2 separate regions of the Homo sapiens genome follow, and region 1 is linked to region 2. The links come from fine-mapping of genetic effects on gene expression. Tissue or cell type: whole blood. Region 2 holds a variant in brackets; the other region holds the start of a gene. All regions are shown on one strand. Distances are between the middles of the regions.

Region 1 (9,914 bases), 57 kb before region 2:
AAAAAAAAAAGAAAAAGAAAAAGAAAAAAAGCTTTGTAATATCCAAAAGTCCCTCTAGGGGGCAGTACTATCCCCTTTGAGAACCACTGGCTGAACTCACCAGTGGGCAGAACCCACACCCGGGAGCCACGTGCAGTGTCCACTATACCAATGCCAGGCCAGTCCTGTACTACACGCTGGGAATACCTGGGTCACTAAGACAGACTTGGTCTCTCCCCTCGTTGACCAACTCCACAGTCTAGCTAGACACGAAACGGGTGATTACGCTAATAGTTATTCCTGACCATTGTGATGCGTGCTAAGAAGGAAAAGGGCTGCTGTGCAGTCATTTGCCAGAGGGACCCGTCTAGACCCCAGGATATCAGGGACTGCTTTCCTGGAGAGGTGATCTTTAAGCTGAGGCCTGAAGTATGAATAGGTGGTTCTGCAAAGAAAGAGAAGAAGGCAGCTGGAGGCAGAGAGAACAGCGGACCTCAGAGCTGAGAGGGAGCTTGGCATATTCTAGAAACTGACGAGGCACCGGAGCTAGAGCTAGGAGAGCGAGAGGTGGAATGGCCTTGCCCTTTGGCCCGAGGAAATGAATCTGGGCTTCATCCCAAGAGCACAGGAGGCCTTTGGATAAACCTCCCAAGAGGCTTTTAGCAGGAGATTGACCTGATCATATTTAAGATCACCTGGCTGCAGTGTGGATAATGGGTCAGACATAGCCAGAGTGATGATGTGATGAGGCGACTGACCAGCTAGGAGGCACCTGCAGTGGCCTGGGCAGGAGAGGGTGGTGGTAAGACTTGGTGGAGTCACTTGGATGCTGTGGGCACACAGATGGTACCAAAGTCACAGGGGTCAGTAAGGATGATTTAGGCTGCAAGCAACTGAAATCCTGGCTTAAATAGACTTAAATGAGCAGAGAGGCAAGGTTTGTTTGCCTCCTGGACACCCCATGTTTAAGCCTTGGGAAAATCAATTTATTAAATGCTAAGTAGTCTTAAGGGGATCAGCTCACTTAACTGGTGTCCAGAGACCCAGTGAGCTCTGGGCATATAGACTATACAACTCTGTCACAGGATCCTAAGGGTGTTGCTTTTTCCAGCTGGAAACCTCTGTGGCTGGTAGCACCTTTGCCTGAATTTTGCTTGGGCCCACTGGGCTCCTTCTGCCCACTCAGCCTGGCAGGCTGTGCTCAGCTCTCAGTACCAGCCCTGATCCCACGCCTGCGAAGGGCGAGCCAGGCACTGAACAGCAAGGGGTGTGTGAGTGAGTGCAGGGTCCAGCCACTGCGCACAGCCAGGCATGCCAGCTGTGGTGGGGCAGGCAGCTCCAGGTGCTGGTACAGGCACTGGCTCTGTGCCAGGCTGCGGCTGGGCCAGGCATACTGGAAGGGGCTTCCACTGTGGCTACTGGGGAATGTGGTGGTGCCCAGAAGCTTGGAGGCACCAGGAACTGCAGAGCCCCAAAGAGGGTGTCACAGCCATGTCACCCCTAGGTCTGGGCTCCCCAAAGTGCTGAAGCTTTATCTCGTTCTCGTTGCCTGCAACATGGCGAGCAGGGTTGGGGTGGGGGGCAGGCTGTTTCAGCCTTGTTTGTCTTACAGCTCTTTCAGTCCTGCTGTTCAGTGGGTCCTGGGTCCTTGTCCTATGTCCAGGAAGAATAGGTACACAGACAACTGGATGGTGAGCAAGGTGGAGAGAGCTTCACTGAGTGACAGAACAGCTCTCAGGAAACCCGAAGTGGGTAGTTCCTTTCTGCAGGCAGGTCCTCCTGATAAGTGTCTAGCTTTCAGCAGAGAGGAGACCCACATAGGGTAGCTCGTCACCGCAGGCAGGTCTTCCCGACAAGTGGAGGAGACCTGACCTGGAGTGGGTAGTTCCTTCCTGTACCTGGTAGTCCCAACATCTGTCTGAGTCTAGCTGAGTCCTGGGATTTTATGGGCTCAGAAGGGAGGAAGTGTGTGCTGTTTGGTCCATGGGTGACCAGGAGCAGGCTGGGGGAAAAAGCACCATAAGTTCTCACTCTGGGCTGAGGACTCCACCTGGAACTGGCAGCCCAGCCCCCAGGCTTCAGGCCATCCCTGGCTTGTAGGTGGGGTTTCACTGAGGACCCACCCCTTTCTGCCCAGGAGCCTGTCTGCCTCCTGCTGCCATCAACATGTCGTCTAGGGCACCTAGGCTGTTCATGCAGAGGGGTGCTTGCAGTTCCAGGTGGAGCTACCCCTCAGCTTCCCTCCTGAGCTTGTCAGTGCTCAAAGTCTGGAGGGGGTTGAGGCAGCAGGGGGCTGGCATCTCAGTGCCACCACAAGTGTGCACACATCTGGCTGGGTTGCAACAGCATGTGGGCTTGGACACAACTTTGCTCCACCCTGGAGTGGGTGACTGGAGTTGGGAGAGGCCAGAGATGGGGCGAAGGCACTTCTGAGCCTGCAAGCTTCCTGGGCCCCAGAGAGTGCAGGGATGCCTGGATCTGGGGCCGCAGCCAAACGGCTGCAGCTGTGCCTGGGAGCTTGGGGCTCCCACCCCACCAACTTGGTAGGGGGCGGGGCTCCCACCTGTTCCCAGCCCCCACCGGCTCTGCAGAGTGCACAACACTGGCCAGACTCTCCACTGCAGCCCACGTCTTGGCAGTGGCCACTCCAGATGGGCCGCTGCTGCCAGCAACTCCATAGTATCATCCTGTACCCAGGCAGGCTCCATGTTTCTCTCTGATCTGCTGTCCATGATGTCTGCTATGTCCTCAACTGGTCAGCAATTGGATCTGCAAGCTTCCTTATGCACACAAAGCAGGAGAGGGAGTTGGGCTTCTCTATTCATGGCATATAAATCTGTCTTTCCAGGGGAACAACTTAGGACACATACCTCTAGCTAGACCAATAGCCGTTGCCAAGAAATATGCTCAGATAGAGTGGGATCCATCCTGGAGCTGGGGCTGCATAACTGAGCAGTCAGGTTCTGCTAGAAGGGAAGGGGGTCTGGATGGATGTTGAGGGAATCAAATGTCCGCCTCATCTTGAGGGGAGAAGAGAAGGGTAGAGCTGGGAGGAAGCAGCAAGGGTCCAAGCAGCTAGAGAAGGCGTTGTGATGAGAACAGGCTCAGACTCTCCTCTCTTTCCTTTTCCCCACCCCCATGCTCATCCTAGCTCTGTCCTTTACCGACCTTCCACTTCTTGGGAGCTGTAGATGTGGTTGCCACCCTCTGTGGTCTCTACCCCTTGACTGGAAGCTCCCTGAGGGCAGGGATGTGACTTATTCCCAGCAAGTCAGAGGTGATGGGTGAATGTTTATTCTTTCAGTCCATCATTTAGAAAGAATTTATGGAGACCATGCTTTGCACCAGGTGCTGTTTCAGGCACTGAGGAAACAGCAGTGGACAAAACAGACAAAAACCCCTGGCTCCTTGGAGCAGACATTCTGATGGGGAAGACAGAAAACAATTAAGACACATGTGCTATACAGTGATTGGTGCTAGAGAAGAAGCCTGAAAGGGAGATGAAAGAGGGAAAGTTGTGGTGTTCAGTTGTGTGGCCGGGTTGGTCTCACTGGAGTTGATATCTGAAGGAAAGGAAGACATGCCAGCCAGAGGGAACAGCTGACAGAGACCCTGGGGAGGCGCTGGTCTGGCCTGTCTGGGGAACAGCTGGAAGGCTAGCATGGGTCCTGGGGAGGTCAGAGAGGTCAGCCAGGGCTTTCAAGGTCACGTAAGGGGAGAGTGGCTGGAGAGGAGGTCAGCGAGGTCAGCCAGGGCTTTCAAGGTCACGTAAGGCCTTTGAGTTTTGCACTGAGTGAGATGGGAGCCAACGGAAGACTTTGAGTAGAACCAGGTCATGAGAATTGAATTGAGGATAGACCATGGGGACAAGGGCAGAGCAGGAGACGCATTGGGAGTCCATGGAGTCGATTAAATGACTCAGGCAAGGGATGACAGGCTTCCACTGGGGGCAGTTACAATGGAGATGGTGAGATATGGTGGGATTTTGGACATATTTTGAAGGAGAGTGGGAGGGGGATTTGCAGTTTTGGTGACCTGGTGGGGTTGAAGGTGTCACTGGGTGGGTTCAAGAGAGAATGGAGGAGGGAGATTGGAGACAGAAAGTATGGAGAGCTCCTTCAAAGGGCATTGTTGTGAAAAGGGAGAAATGACCAGTAGCTGAAGGGGATGTGGGGTCAACGGTGTGCTTTCTTGAGAGCAATAACATCATGCTTGTGTGCCGATGGGATGATCCGGTAAACAGGGGAACTTGGTAAGGCAAGAGAGTGAGAGAATCACTGCAGGCTCACCACTGAATGGGCGAGAGGGGATGGGGTCTATGCCCAAGTGTCCAGTTGTTACCAGTGGGGAGTACGGGTGATTCATTTGTAGGAACAGGAGAGAACTCACAGGATTTGGGCACAGATGCCGAGGGCGGGCGTTAGAAGGAGACTGGGGACCTGAAGAAGTTCTCTGCTCCGTAAAGAGGAAGCAAACTGAGAGTGAGGTTGGGCGATGGGGTGTCCTAGGGGCATCCGGGAGACAGGGAGACAAGACATATAGTATGATTGCCCCCAGCAGTGAGGGCTCGCTTGAGTTAAGGGTCATGACTACAAAAGGCACCACTCAGGCCGGCTGTGTTACTCTCCAACACAGCACTGGTTGGGGGCAGGTGTGGAGGAGGCGGAGTTGGATTCGCCAGGGTTATGGCTTAGCCCTGTGAGAATGCTGTATCCCTCAAAATAAGAGAGGGGAAAGGGAGTTGAGATTTTGCGCAGCAGTGCGTTTAGGCTGAGTGAGCAGGTTGGTTAGTGAGGACTTGGGCGGTGGGAAGACGGACAGTGCCCTGACAGGGGCTAGGTGCTGGAGTGCTGGGGGATAGAAGTGCGAAGCCAGGGCCCCTGTGTCAAGAAGTTCATACGCTGGAAAGGAACCAGACATAATAAGCGAAACGACTGTCACCGTTCATGGCTTACACCTTGAACAGCTTTCCACTGTGGAGACTAGGGAGTGTAGAGATTGTTGGGGATGGGGGACTTGCAGGGGACAGAATGGGCCGCAGCTGGACCCTAGTTCTCCAGGGAACGCAGTATGATTTGAATACAGATCTCTGCCTCCAGAGATGAGTGACTCGACACCGCTGCGGAGAAGGCTCCGAGGAGGGTTGGTGGGGACTCGAACCTCGGAGTCTCTCCCGACCCGGGGGTCCCAGCAAACCAGAACGGCCACCTAGACAGCCTGCGGACGGGAGAGGACCGGCTCCCTGGCGCAGATCATGGGGCAGGTGGAGAGAGGCGAGAGGCAATGAGGCGGGGGGCTCGGGGTGCACGGCACGCTCCGCACACTCCCCCTTCAGCGCTCACTCAGACTTGGTTTCCCCGAAGACACACTCTCGTCCCCGCCGCTGATTGCCCACTCCTTCCGCCTGCACTCCTGCCTCCTTCTCACCCTTTCGTCGAGCGCACAGGGCGGCTGCCAAGTCGGCACCGGTGCGCACCGGGCCCGGGATCCCTGGCTGGTGTGGAGCCTTGGTCACCGGAGGCCCCCGCGGAGCAGGCCCCACGGCGCCTTGTGCGCTCTCGGAGGCCGAGCTGCGCGCCCGCGTCAGCGGCGCCTCGTTCCTGGCCGGGAGCTGGGACCCGCGGAGCTAGGGACCAGCACCCCCACAGGCGCCCGTCTGACCCCTGTCCCTCCCCGCCCGCCGCGGGCAGGGCGGATCTGGGTAGGGGCCGGAGGGGGAGGGTCCGCCCAGCGGGTGTCCGGTGTCCTCCCTGCAGCCTCTCCCAGGCATTGGTCACTTCTCCGCGGAGGAGCAGCGAAGGCGACAGCTCTCTTGGCGCGGCTGCCTGGGAGCCGGGCGCTTGCTGGGTGGGTGCTCGGGCCCGGTGCTCCCGCTCCCGCCCTGACTGCGCGCCTGTGTGCCGCCGGGGCTGCCCAGCCATGCTGTGCTGCCTGCTGGTGAGGGCCAGCAACCTCCCCAGTGCGAAGAAGGACCGGCGCAGCGACCCTGTCGCAAGCCTGACTTTCCGAGGTGAGAGCCCCGTGGCTGCCGCGCCCATGCTCGGGTGCTACCCGACTCTCGGCGCTCACTGGCGGGTCTGAAGCCCCTGCTCCGGAGCTAACCCTAGTCCAGGCCACAGTTTCTCCCTTTGTCAGCAGGGACGGAAATCCCAGCCCCGACTTCTGCAGGGGGGCGATGAGGAATAAGCAGAGCACAATAAATGCCACAGGGCTTTGAAAAATTGGAAAAGCGAAAGTGCCGTAGGTCAGCGGTTATCACTTTTCTAAGACTGACACCCAGAGGAAATAAAGTCCGAGCTTTTACTGGGTAGTGGGGATAAGGGTAAGTTGGAAGATGGGTGCAGAAGGTAGAGAGGAATCAGGGCCTCTGAAAAACGGGGCGTGTAGATGATGTGCTTTGAAAGTTGTGTCTTTTTTCATTCATTCATTCATTCATTCACCCATCTTTATCCAACATTGGCTGTATTGAATCTGCCCCGTCTTAATCAGTAGGAAAAGGAACAGAATAGGATGGAAATGGCCTTGACACAAGGAGTTTTGAGGAATGTCAAGGATATTTTCTCTAAATTCAAGAAGCTAAGTCCCTACATGTAGTGCTTAGAATACATACAGGTATTTCTGTGTGGGGCAGCAGAGAAATCACACACACACTCCTCTTCTCACCAGGCGTCCTGAACCCCCTCCCCCAACCCCTCCAAGGCAGATTCCCACTGGAGCGGGTGTCTCAGGAGGGGAAAGGGAAGAGGAAGGATCTGTCAAAATTAAGAGAAGGAACAATAGCTGTGAGTCAGGACCCCAGTTCTGCAGAGAAAGATAAATCAGGAGAGGAAAGAGGGTTTCCACTTAGCCAGGAGCCATACCCTGTAGCTTTGTGGAATCGATAATAATAATAATAAAAATCTACGTATCAGAAAAGATAGTCAAATGAAGAAGGAAGAGTAGCTGGTGTTTTCATAAGCCTCCTTCAGTGCAGGCACCAAGGGAACTCTTTTCAGTCTGACCCATGATCTGAATCATATCTCCAAGCACCCCCAAGATAATGATAGATGAAAGACATGATTTGGCAAAGGGAGATTTATGTGTAGCTTTTATTCTTTGCTGTGGGACAAGTTATATGTATTCCTCTTTTGAAAGATGTGATTTGAAACGTTTAAGAAAATTTCACTATTTTCATTGATTGGTGACATGCCTGGGAGTTCACTATGCAAGAGCAACTTCAAGACAAAGTCTTTCCTTCTCCAGTGTCCACCTGATGCTGCCTAAGGCTTTGCTATGCAGAAATTGCGGTGTCACCATTGGCTGGAAAAGAAATTCCCTAAGGACACTGGGCAGGGCACACATTAGCATAGGGCTCTGGATGCTCTAACACTCGTTTGGGTCTGCTCACAGCTCTTTCCCTTGTCCTGTAACAGTCCTGTGGTGGCTACCAATGTCTCCATTCTGCAAATAAGGAAATTGAAACCCAGGGAAGTTAAATGTGTTCAGGTCAGTGGTCATGGCAGGGAGCTACCAGCGCTTGGAGTGGGTATTGCCCTTGAGTCGGGAAGATGACCAAATCCCTTGAGGCCCCTCTTTACTATTGCCCTCGCCCAAGTACCCCGAACACGTGCAGCTGCTATCTCCCCCCAGATCTCTGTATTCCTTCTTTGTAATGCCTTACTATTTATTTGCACTGATGATCTCCTCGGAAAACAGAAATACCATACAATAGAATGTAACATCTCCAACCGTTTCAAGTCTATTTGTATTTCAAAGCCCAGGGCAATGCCACCTTCTCCAGGAGGACACCCTGGATCCCCCTGGCTCTCAAGAGTCTCTCCTCTCTGGATGACAAGCAGCAGCACCTTGCTAGGGATGCTAGCACCCTCGCCCTGACTGGCCTGTGCTCAGCTCCATGCTTAGGTGCCTTGAGAGCAGTGACCTGTCCTATTTGTTCATTGGTTTGTCCCAGTGCTGAGCACAAGTAGGTGCTCTCTAGTGTTTGTGCGCTTTCTGGCCCAGCCTCTAGCCATCCTCCAGGTGTGCCTGGGAGCTTCATTTAGTCTGGGACATGGTCCGCTCACTTGATTGTTCCTGAGAATCACTTGTAGAACGTGTTTGAGAAACAGATTCCAGAGTCCCCATCTGTAGAGGTTCCGATGCAGCAGGTCTGGAAGGTGACCTAAGAATCAGCACTTAACAAATACCCGATGCAGGTTATTTTGGAACCGCATCTTGGGAAAAATGGGTCTGAGATGTGATGGCAGGTGAAATTAATGCGCTCCCCATTGCGGGAGCATTCACTGGGGAGTTTGGGGCTGAGTTGATGCCTAAGGAGGGAAACCGTTAGAACCAGGTTCAGAACTTACAGAGCATGTAGGCTGGGGGGACTCAACTCTGGCTGCAGGTCAACATTGTGTGTGGGAGCTTCACCAAAGACCACTGCCAACCTCCCTGCCTGCCTTTTCTGAAGCCAGATCCCTTCCGGTGGGGCCCCAGGCATAGGTGTTGTTTCTGTCAAATTTCCAGGTGTTTTGAATGTGCAGTCAGGGTTGAGAACCACTGAGCCCAGCTCCTCATGGCACAGATGGGACAGTGGCCTGCTTGCAGAGAAGCCAGCCTGCACTGTGTGTTTGGCTCCTACAGGCAGCCTGAAATGTATGGGGCTGGGCTGGCCCCACTTTCCTTGCAGTTGTTCCCTGTCTCGGATGTAATTTCAGGACCTGCCTCCCAAAATAGACTATGAGCTCTGGGAGGCTGGACTCTGAGGGCAATTTTTTGGCTTCCCTGTCTAAGCACCTCTATTAATAGTAGAGGCTACTAATGAATACTTCTCATTCTTTTGTTTTTCTATTAATTAATTCATTAACTAAAACTACCATGAGTAACTGGGCCATAGTAGATATTTTTGACTGATTGTGTCAACGAGCAGCTTAATTTCCTATAGCATTTAATTGTCTGTACTTCTTTTCTGCCCTGCCCATTTTCCATTCCTTAATGTGATTATTTATATCCCTCTATTCATGCAGTTAGTTCATTGAACAAATATTTACTGAGTACCTACTACGTGCCTGGTGCTTTTCTAGGTGCTTGGATGCATACAAGAACAAAACCAGATCCCTACTGCTTTAAAGCTGAAACATCTTATTTCCTTGAAGGCCAGATCTGCTGCGTCCCCACTTGGTGAATTTCTGCCCTGTGTCATCAGCCAGGAACCCAGAAGTCATTACTGACACTTCCCTCTCTCTCATCCTGTCAGGGCGTCTCCTCCTCCAGCCTCCCCCTCCCACCTCTTCTCTTCTTGATCTCCTGGGGGTCTCTAGATTTGGGGCAGGAGTTGGGGGATCTTATAGAACTAGTTGGAGGTGGATTCCTGTCGTCAGGGAACACTCTTAACTCACCTATGTAGGGAAAGTGGGCTGAAGGCCCCGGACTCTCTGAACCTAGCTGTTTACATATTACAAATGACTTAAAATATTGAAAACAGCGGCCAGGCGTGGTGGCTCACGCCTGTAATCCCAGCAATTTGGGAGGCCAAGGCGGGTGGATCATGAGGTCAGGAGATCGAGACAATCCTGGCTAACATGGTGAAACCCTGTCTCTACTAAAAATACAAAAAAAATTAGCCGGGTGTGGTGGTGGGTGCCTGTAGTCCCAGCTACTCGGGAGGCTGAGGCAGGAGAATGGCATGAACCCAGGAGACGGAGGTTGCAGTGAGCCAAGATTGAGCCACTGCACTCCAGCCTGGGTGACAGAGTGAGACTCCATCTCAAAAAAAAAAAAAAAAAAAAGAAAAGAGCTTTCTCTTCTCTTCCTTCTTTCCTTCCTTCCTTCTTTCCTTCCTTCCTTCCTTCCTTCCTTCCTTCCTTCCTTCCTTCCTTCATTCCTTCCTTCTTTTTTTTTTTTGAAATGGACTTTCACTCTTATTACCCAGGCTGGAGTGCAATGGCACGTTG
Region 2 (9,914 bases):
CCAGCCTCCTCACTTGTCCCAGACAGTCCAGAAGTGAATAGTCCTCTTCTGAGAACCGAGAGCCAATGGATTTAACAGATTACGTAAAGTAAAGGTAACTAGTAATTGCACAGACTAAAGGAGACCTGTATGATTTTTTTTTTTTTTTTTTTGAGATGGAGTCTTGCTCTGTCGCCCAGGCTGGAGTGCAGTGGTGTGATCTCAGCTCACTGCAACCTCTGCTTCCCAGATTCAAGTGATTCTCCTGCCTCAGCCTCCCCAGTAGCTGGGATTAGAGGCGTGTGCTACCACGCCTGGCAGTTTTTTTTTTTTTTTGGTATTTTTAGTACAGATGGGGTTTCACCATCTTGGTCAGTCTGGTCTTGAACTCCTGACCTTGTGATCTGGCTACCTTGGCCTCCCAAAGTGTTGGGATTACAGGCATGAGCCACCGTGCCTGGCCTGCATGGTGTTTTAATGTAATTTGATGTAATTGTTACTAATTTTCTCATTTTGAAATTTTCAAGGATTTCTCAAAAGGAAAGAAAGAGCACAAGCTTATTTTCCCCTCTCCCCTCTATCCAAGTATATCATGCCTTCCTTCTTTAAATTTGTATTTTAAATATGAATTTAAAATAAGGGGCTTGGTTCTGCCTGTTGTCAGAAGTTACCTTAGAATTATTTATTCTGCCCAATAAATAATTGCTGGGACCAGGCGCAGTGGCTCATGCCTGTGATCCCAGTGCTTTGGGAGGCCAAGGTGGGCAGATCACTTGAAGTCAGTAGTTCAAGACCAGTCTGGCCAACATGGTAAAACCCCGCCTCTACTAAAAATACAAAAATTAGCTGGGCATGGTGGTATGCGCCTGTAATCCCAGCTACTCAGGAGGCCGAGGCAGGAGAATCGCTTGAACCTGGGTGGCAGAGGTTGCAGTGAGCCAAGATCGCACCATTGCACTCCAGCCTGGATGACAGAGCGACACTCCATCTCAAAAAAAAAAAAAAAAAAAAAAAAAAAAAATTACTGGGTTGGACCTGATGGCTAGATCAGTGGGTGAGATTTCTTTGTCTTTGCGCTGTCTTCTCAAATCATTGCCTGTGGGAAGAAGTCACAAGATAAAAAACTAAGTCTGTTTACCTGGAGAAGCATTTTTTAAAAGAATGAGCTTGAGCCCAAGTCATTCTGTAACAAATTAAATCTTAATTATGTTTTGAGTCTTGTTCTGAGAACCCAAGGGTTAAGTCAAAAAATTATTTTACTTGTATCTAATTATAAAAGTAATCTATGATTTAAAAAAAAGACGACTTTTTAAAACAGACTGTTGTAGGTTCACAGCAAAAATTAAGTGGAATGTACACAGTTCCCATATACTCCCTGCCCCCTGCCCCTGCTGCCCCCTGCAGCCTTCCCCACTATCATCATCCCAATCATCTGTGGATTTTTAATAGAAAATTGTAAAACACAGGAAGGAATAAAAAATGAAATAAAAATAATCCAAATCTACCATGCAGGGATAACATAGTCCTATTGTGTTGAATTTCCTTTCCTCTTTTTTTTTTGAGACGGATTTTTGCTCTTGTTGCCAAGGCTGGATTGCAATGGCATGATCTCGGCTCACTGCAACCTCCAACTCCTGGGTTCAAGTGATTCTCTTGCCTCAGCTTCCCAAGTAGCTGGAATTACAGGCATGCACCACCACACCCGGCTAGTTTTTTTTTTTTTTTTTTTTTTTGTATTTTTAATAGAGATGGAGTTTCACCATGTTGGTCAGGCTGGTCTCGAACTCCTGACTTCAAGTGATCCACCTGCCTTGGCCTCCCAAAGTGCTGGGATTACAGGCATGAGCCACCACGCCCAGCCTCCTTTCCTCTTTCTTTTCTGTACATAAGCATTCTTTATCAAACTGGGATCAAAATATATTTCATTTTCTTTTCATGTAGTATCAAATGTTGACTGCCTGTGTTTCCAAATGTTCTTCAAAAACATGGTTTTTAATGGAATCATATAATGCACCACACTTTATTTAACGCTTTGGCGGCAAGAGTTTGATTTGTGTCTCCTCTCATTGATTGCAGATGGACGTGGGCACCATTTACAGAGAGCCCCGTGAGTTCTCACCACTTTGGCCGTATCCTTGCATTTTGGTTCTGGAGGCTGATTGGGGACACTCATTTGGGGTCCTCACTGTCCCTCCTGGGGGTTTTAGAATCTAGAGGAAGGGTTTGATCTTGGGAGAGAAAGCAGGTCATTCATCCTCCATGTGAGACAGGCCCTCGGGAGGGTGTAACACTCACCTGTGTCTCCGTTGGCCCATTCAGGGAGGCTAGATCTGAAAGGCCCCATTACTGGACACTGGGCTCACGGCAGACAGGGACAGGTCATTTGGGTGACAAGCCAGGATTTCTCCTCACCCTGGTTTCCATTCTGATCTGGTCACTTCCTGAAGGGGAGGAAAATGCCTTGGGTTTGGCTCTGCCAGCCTCTTACAGGCGTTTCTGTTAATATTTCTGACTCTGACCACATGAACACTCAAAGTACCTTTTGATTCTAGAATCTGAGTCCTGAGCTCATGGCCCAGCGGATGAGTCCTTTACCTCCCCTGTGCAGTCCATCCTGGGTTCCCGGATGTGGCCACAGCCTGGGGTCTTCTGATTCTGGGATCACCAGAGGATGTTGTCTCTCTTAGGGCACGCCTATCTCAGGAAGTGGCTGCTGCTCTCAGACCCTGATGACTTCTCTGCTGGGGCCAGAGGCTACCTGAAAACAAGCCTTTGTGTGCTGGGGCCTGGGGACGAAGCGCCTGTGAGTACATTTCCCTGGGTCTTCCTTACGGTCCCCCACGCGGCACTTGGTTGCGGAGGCACCAAACCACAAACAAAAACTCTATTTTTTTTTCTGATTTAAACTAATATGTGGTAATTAATGAGAAATGTGGAACATGTAGAAAGGTGTTAATAAAAAATGAATGCTCTGGGTGCAAGGTATTAATAAAAAATGAATCACTCATAATCCTACCACTCCGAGAGAGCTATTATTGTCTCATTGCACATCCCTCTGGAAGGATATATGCACATATTTTCTTTTTGCAACAGTGAGATTATTCTATATATATTATATTGTGACTTGAATTTCATGGCCTAAGAATGTATCATGCTCATCTCCACATGTCAGTAAGTAAAGTTATAAGTTGGAGGTGGTAAGAATGAGAAAAATGTTGAGAGCAGGAGAGGTATCTGCATCTTTCTATGTTTGAGAAGAGGAGAAAAGGTTTGGAATCATCTTTGTGGGAGAGGAGTGAGGGGTTAGATTTAATGAAAGGATTTCTGTACAAACACCAGAGCACCCACTCTGGGTTGGACGCTTTGTTTGTAGTGGAGCCACTTGCCTCATGGTGCTCAGCAGCGCAGAAGCAGAAGAGAGGCAGGTGGGTGGTGGACGTGTTGGGTGAGGGCAAGCCAGGAGTGCTGAAGGTCAGGGGTGAGGTGAAGGTCAGGGGTGAGGTACCTGAATATGGCTGATGGCTTTGTGCAGGGAGGGAGAGGAGGACAGGGCCCCTGGGGTCTCCTGCCATGCCTCGTGTCTCCCCCATCCTCACCACACACTGGCTCCTTGGCCACCTGGACGTGCTGCTTGGATGAATGTGGGTTTCTACTTCTCCACTTAGCTGGGCCCCGGGTGCTGTCCGCCTCTTCCTTTACCTGGGTATAGTTTACTCCTTATCTAATTCTCCTCATCTCCTTACTCCTTATCTCTCCTGGCTGTTCCCAGACTTTCTTCCCTTTCCTAAGCTCCAACCTCAGCTTCCCTTGGAGAGGCAGAGCTGCACAGCGATGAGTGGTGAGAGCTCTGGGAGCTCCTGTGGTCCTCAACTTGCCCCCCATCTTCATCCACCTTCCCTCCCTTCCTCCGCCCCTCCCGCTGCATTATCCCACCACCTCCTTGGCCATGACTTCACATCCTCCACTGTCTTCTTTAGCCTCCTCTTTCTGGTCTCTTCTCACACTTGTCTCCTCTGCCTCCTTCTCCATGATCTGTACCAGGCTCAAGATTTCCCCATCCTAAAACACCCCTTCCTTGACCCATTTCTCCCCACCCCTCCTCTCCACTACTATTTTCTCTCTCTCCTACTGCTGGTCATCACCAACTTTTGAAAGGGTGCACTGCATCCCCCTTTTTCCACTCCATTGCCAGCTGCTCATTCCTTCTCCTCTTCAGTAGGAATCCCACCACCTCCCCTCCCTGAAGCCACTGGTGTAAGGGTCACTCATTACCATAGCTTAGGAGCTCTCCTCTGTTGTTAGACTGCACCACTGCTCCATAGCGTTCGATTCTGGAGCCCACGCCTTATTTGAAACTGTCTCCTCCCTTAGTATTCATGACTCTCCTTGCTCCTTTTCCAGTGGGTTCTTCAAATTCGATGTTGCAGTTCAGTCCCTGTTCCCTTGCTGTGTCCTGCCCGTCACTGTTGAGGAGTCCGTCTCTTTCAGACACCACCTGAGACTTGTAAATTGCTCTTCTCCAGCCTGGATCTTCTGAGCTCTGGACGCTCAGTTTCAGTTGCCTTGTCATCAGGCCACATTAACATGTCCCTTAGGCCCCTCTAACTTATTATAGTAAATCTAACTTATTATAGCAAAGCCTGTATCATTTGCTGCCCACTCCCCACACCTGTTCCCCATCCCGTATTAGGTGACATCTTAGGAAATTGCATGATTATCCACTTAGTCCCCCAAACCAGAGGCCAGAGTTTCATTCTTTACCCCTCAATCCCCATGCAAGCAGTTGGCCAGTCTTGTTGGTGGAAAACCTCAGTGTACGCCTCTTCTTTTTCCCATCCCAAGACAGGAGTTTGAGGTCCAGCTCCCACTCTCTCTCACTTGGGTCTCTTTGTGAATTACAATATAGGTTCAGCTGGTGTAACAAAGATGCCCCAAATAATAGGCATTAAGGAGGACAGAGGTTTATTTCTCTCTCA[T/C]GAATGCCACAGTCCAGAATTGGCACAGTGCTTCGGCAATGATCAGAGACCCAGGCTCCTGGTCTTTTCTCCACTGTGATCATCATGCAGCCTCCGTCACATGGCCCAAGATGGTTGCTCCAGTTCCCATCACCATGTCTGTATTCCAGCCAGGGAAATGGGAGTAAAGGACAATGGAGGCCACATCTCTTCCTTCAAAGGCATGATCCAGAAGTTGTACACATTTATGCTTAGGTCCCATTGACAAGAACTTAGTCACATGGCCACATCTAACTACGAGGGAGCCTGGGAAATAAAGTCCATCCTAATGCTGTCCAGCTAAAAATTGAGGGTTTGTTAGGGGAGGCAGAAAAGACTGGATTTGGGGGAACAACTAGCAGTCTCTGCCATCCATCCTAAGTGTCCTCTGAGGTCTCCTAACTTCTTACGTTATACTTCACCTATCCCCACCTTATCACCAGTCATCTTTTTTTTTTTTTTTTTTTTTGAGAAAGAATCTTGCTCTGTCACCCAGGCTGGAGTGCCATGGTGCAATCTCGGCTCACTGCAACCTCCGCCTCCCGAGTTCAAGTGATTCTCCTGCCTCAGCCTCCTGAGTAGCTGGGATTACAAGCGTGCGCCACCATATCCAGCTAATTTTTGTATTTTTAGTAGAGACGGGGTTTCACCATGTTGGTCAGGCTGGTCTCAAACTCCTGACCTTGTGATCCACTCGCCTCGGCCTCCCAAAGTGCTGAAATTACAGGCGTGAGCCACTGCGCCTGGCCGCCAGTCATCACTTTTAAACCCAGGTAGAATCACGCGTGTCTCCTCTTACAAAACCTCCAGTGACTTCCCACTGCTTTTAGGATAGAGTCCAAGATCCTTAGCATGACATTCAAGGCCCTTGACATTTGCCCTCAGCCTAGTTTCCCAATCCCACTTGCTGTTATGTATCTTCATGGGCCCCGTCTGTGGCCACACCAGATGATGTGACTCTTTCCAGAATGCTCTTCCATCCCTCTCTAGCCTTTTCCCCTGCTGGAATGCCTTCCCTCTCTTTGCCTACCAAGAGCCAATTTGTTCTTCCAGACCCAGTTCAGATGCTACTTCCTCCCTGAAGCTTGCCTCGTCTTCCAGGAAAATGTATTGGTCTTTCCTTTGGGCCACCACCCAGCCCTTTGGTAGTCTAATCAGTTTATGTGTCTGTCTTCATCACTGAGATTCAGTTTCTTGATGATGGGGACAATATAGCAAATGTGATATCTTTTATCTCCCCTCTTGCCTAGTACGGCAGGTCTTGTACACAGTAGGTGCTCAGTCAGTGCTTATTGTCTAGGGGAATAGACATTTTTATGGATGCCTGAAAGATGATTGTTTTCTTCTGATATGAGCTGAGGAGAATAAACGCAGAACACATCCCTTTGGGCATGCTGTGATATGGGCATTCTGGGATTGAGGGTTTTGCAGCAAGGATCCTGAAGCAGGTTTCTACGTGTCAAGTGTGACTGAGTGAGAAATGGGGTGAGGCTAGTCCAGGCAACTGTCCAAGGAGTTGGCTGCTGGGCACAGCCTGACCTTGCTATTCTCCTGTCCCTTCGCTGCTCGCTAGCCCAAGAGCAGCCACCAGATCTTTTGTCTGTTCCTCCAGCTGCCGACTTCCCCATGTGCAAGGGCCTCTGCATGAGTTGCCTCCTCGTCTGGATGCCTCCACCTGTTGCTCATCATCCAGGTCTCAAGCTGGGAAGCATTTCTGACCCCACCTCAGTATAGTTACAAGCCCCCTTGCTCTGTGCTCTCCAAGCACGTGGGTTCTGCTTCCAGCCTGTGTTACACCTCAGCTTTCTTATCTGTAAAGTGGGGGCATTCTAGGTCTTACACCCAGAGCAACATCTGTGGGCAAGCAGCGTGGGCATCACTTGGACACTTTTTGAAATGCAGAATCTTGGGCCCCACCCCACACCTGCTGAACTAGAACCTGCATTTTAATTGGAATGCACAGCAGTGGTCTAGAAGACATTGATTCTCAGCCTCTGTTGCTAGTTGGAATCATCTGGGAAGCTTTACAAGCCACTGCTGCATGGGTACTCTCTCCCAGAAATTCTGTTTTAATTGGTCTAGGGTGTGACCTGGGTTTCCCAGGTGAGTCTTTTCTTTTCCTTTTTTGTTTTTGAGATGGTGGGGGCGGGGGGCGGTCTCACTTTGTTGCCCAGGCTGGAGTGCAGTGGTGCAATCTTGGCTCACTGCAACCTCTGCTTCCCAGGTTCAAGCAATTCTCCCATCTCAGCCTCTGAGTAGCTGGGACTACAGGTGCATGCCACCATGCCTGGCTAATTTTTGTATTATTTGGTAGAGACAGGGTTTCCCCATGTTAGCGAGCTGGTCTTGAACTCCTGACCTCAGGTGATCCGCCTGCCTCGGCCTCCCAGAGTGCTAGGATTACAGGTGCGAGCCACGGCGCCCAGGCTTCCCCAGGTGTTTCTAATGTGCCGCCAAGTTTGAGACCCATTCAAGGGAGGGGTGCTATGAGGATTAAATGAGAGAGTGCATACACATCAATGCATGTGGGATGTGATTTTTGTTATTACTGTTCCAACCACAAGACACAGTACATGTTATTGGATTCGTTTGCTGAAAGTGTTTTCCCTGCATGATAGTCAGCTCCATGGGAACAGGGTGCTTATTCATGTCATCCCCTTATTCATTGCCATATCCCCTGCCCTTCAGCACCATACAGACACCTAGTACTCACTCAGTAGCTAATGGCTGGGTGAATGAACACCTGCATGTTATTAAAGACAGAGTGGCCAGCTTAGACCTCAGTTACTACTGTACTATGTTTTAACCGGGAGGTGGGGGAGAGCGGGAAGGAGACTGAGGTTGGTGGAATGCTTGCTGTGTGCCACGTGCATTTACATCATTACTGGAGATGTTCCTCGCACAGTCCTGGAAGGTCAGTATCATGGTCTCTGCTGTACTCAAGAGGAAGCTGAGGCTCAGGTGAAGGACCTTGCCCGAGACCACGCGGTAGTAAGTGTCGGAGCGCAGTCTGCCTTACTGCAGAATGCAGCATTTATGTGGCGAAGCTGGAACTCTTAGAAAAGGAAAGTAAAACCCTGTGCTCAGGAGCGCATGAAGGAATCGTATTTGGTTTTCTTTGTAGCTGGAGAGAAAAGACCCCTCTGAAGACAAGGAGGACATTGAAAGCAACCTGCTCCGGCCCACAGGCGTAGCCCTGCGAGGAGCCCACTTCTGCCTGAAGGTCTTCCGGGCCGAGGACTTGCCGCAGAGTGCGTGGGGCGCGCCCTTGGGTGGGAGGTCTGCAGGAGGCTGGAGGCGCAGGGCTGGTGGGGGTGGGCGATGGCGGGCGGGGTCAGCTCCCTGGGGGAAGGAGAGGCGTCTAGGAAAACAATCAGAATTTAACGAAAAGTAATCAGTGCTGGTGGAGTTACAAAGATTCAAGAACTCTTGAGAGTAATAGCTGCCTCTCAGCTCCATTCCAATGTCCTCTGGGCCTGGTCTGGCAATATTTGGCCACTCTGTGGACCCATTTTCTTAGTTCTCATTGAGAAGTCAGCACCATCTGGACTCTATTCTGGCCTTAGGGCTGGCTCTCACTGATTTTCCCTCCCTCTGTGAGGAAGCCCGTCCTGCTAGTGGCAGAGCTGGGCTGGGGAGCAGTTGCTCTAATGTTGGAAGGGTTTGCATGAAGGACTCCTGGGCCCCACTGTCTTCACAGATGAAGGACACAGATCCACAAGGTGACCCACCATCCTAGCTTGCCTGAGACTGTCCTGGTTTTAGCACTGAAAGTGCCTGTTCCAGGAAACCCTGCAGTCTCCAGCAAACTGGGACAGTGGGCACCCGACTTGCAACCATCTCTTCCTCCCAGGAAGGCCAATGTGGCCACTGCCTGGTTTCTCACAGTGGTTGGCCCGATACTAGACCCATCTGTGTGTTTAGTAAATGCTGGGGAGTTATACCGAATATTCTAGAGCTCTGGTTATCAACCTGGGCTGATAGTAGAATTCCCTGGGAAGATTCAAAACGGTCCAAATGCCGGGGCCCCACCTCCAGCGTTTTAGATTGACTCGAGTTAGGGCAGGGCTCAGCATTGGTAGGGTTTAAAGGCTCCCCAGGTTGTTCTGTGGTGAGGCCCCGCTGTGAGCCACTATTTTAAAGCATGCATTAACACAACCAAGCCACTGTCCACAGCAGAGTCAGTGAGAAGGTTTGCAACTTGGGTCCCTGGTTACAACTTTTCCATAAAGGTAACTATTTGAGAGTTTCTGCTTCGGCTGCTGACGTCAAGAAATGAAATGTACAAGCTTACTTAGATCAAATCCTGAAGAAAGCCTGTAAATAAGTAATGGGTATTAATTCAGTACTAAAACACATGCTTAAAAATATTCTGCACTTATTGATTGCAACTAGAAGTGAGGCTGGTGAACTTCAAGAGGGGCATGGGGAAATAGAAATGTTTGCTTTTCTTAAGGTGAAAGAGCTTTGTGTTGAATTCCCTGCAACGTTGTTTGAAAAAAACAAAATAGATGGGCAAACAGATCATAAATGTTTGCTAATTGTTGTTGCCTTTTGTATTCATGTAGTTATTAGCTAGCGTATAATCTTTATCCCCCTCCACTTACTTACCCACTCATATGTCTGTAAACATAACATGCTTTATACACATATGTATGTGTATACACATAAACATATCTATCTATCTGTATCTACATATATAAATAATCTGGCTGATTCAAAAAATAATGGTTTGGGGCAGCATAGATTAAAAACTCTTAAAAAAAAAACAACAGAATTGACTTCTTGGTTAACCTCAGGTAAATCGCTGCGCTAATAGATTTAAAGGAAAATGTCAACCAGGCACCAATAATGGGATATTGTTATAACAACTGCCAGTCCTTTTCTGAGTACTTACTGCCCTTAGTGATGTAGATTTCTAATTAGTCAGGCAGGTAGATT

Evidence for each region. PIP is the estimated chance that this variant, and not a neighbour inherited with it, causes the effect.
Region 1: DYSF starts here. The variant in region 2 is fine-mapped to the expression of DYSF in whole blood (TOPMed, PIP 0.93).

What each region holds. Positions count from the first base shown.
Region 1 is chr2:71,460,945-71,470,858 of GRCh38, forward strand. It overlaps DYSF (dysferlin), which reads left to right and starts at 5,755. Exons shown (of 56, transcript NM_001130987.2): 1 at 5,755-5,989. The coding sequence starts at 5,899.
Region 2 is chr2:71,518,123-71,528,036 of GRCh38, forward strand. DYSF (dysferlin) reads left to right here. Exons shown (of 56, transcript NM_001130987.2): 11 at 2,056-2,086; 12 at 2,667-2,782; 13 at 8,098-8,224. Among named protein-coding and RNA genes, the nearest start is that of DYSF, 56 kb to the left of the region's middle. RefSeq lists an enhancer at 9,632-9,914. The variant T/C (reference allele first, on the strand shown) is at 4,956.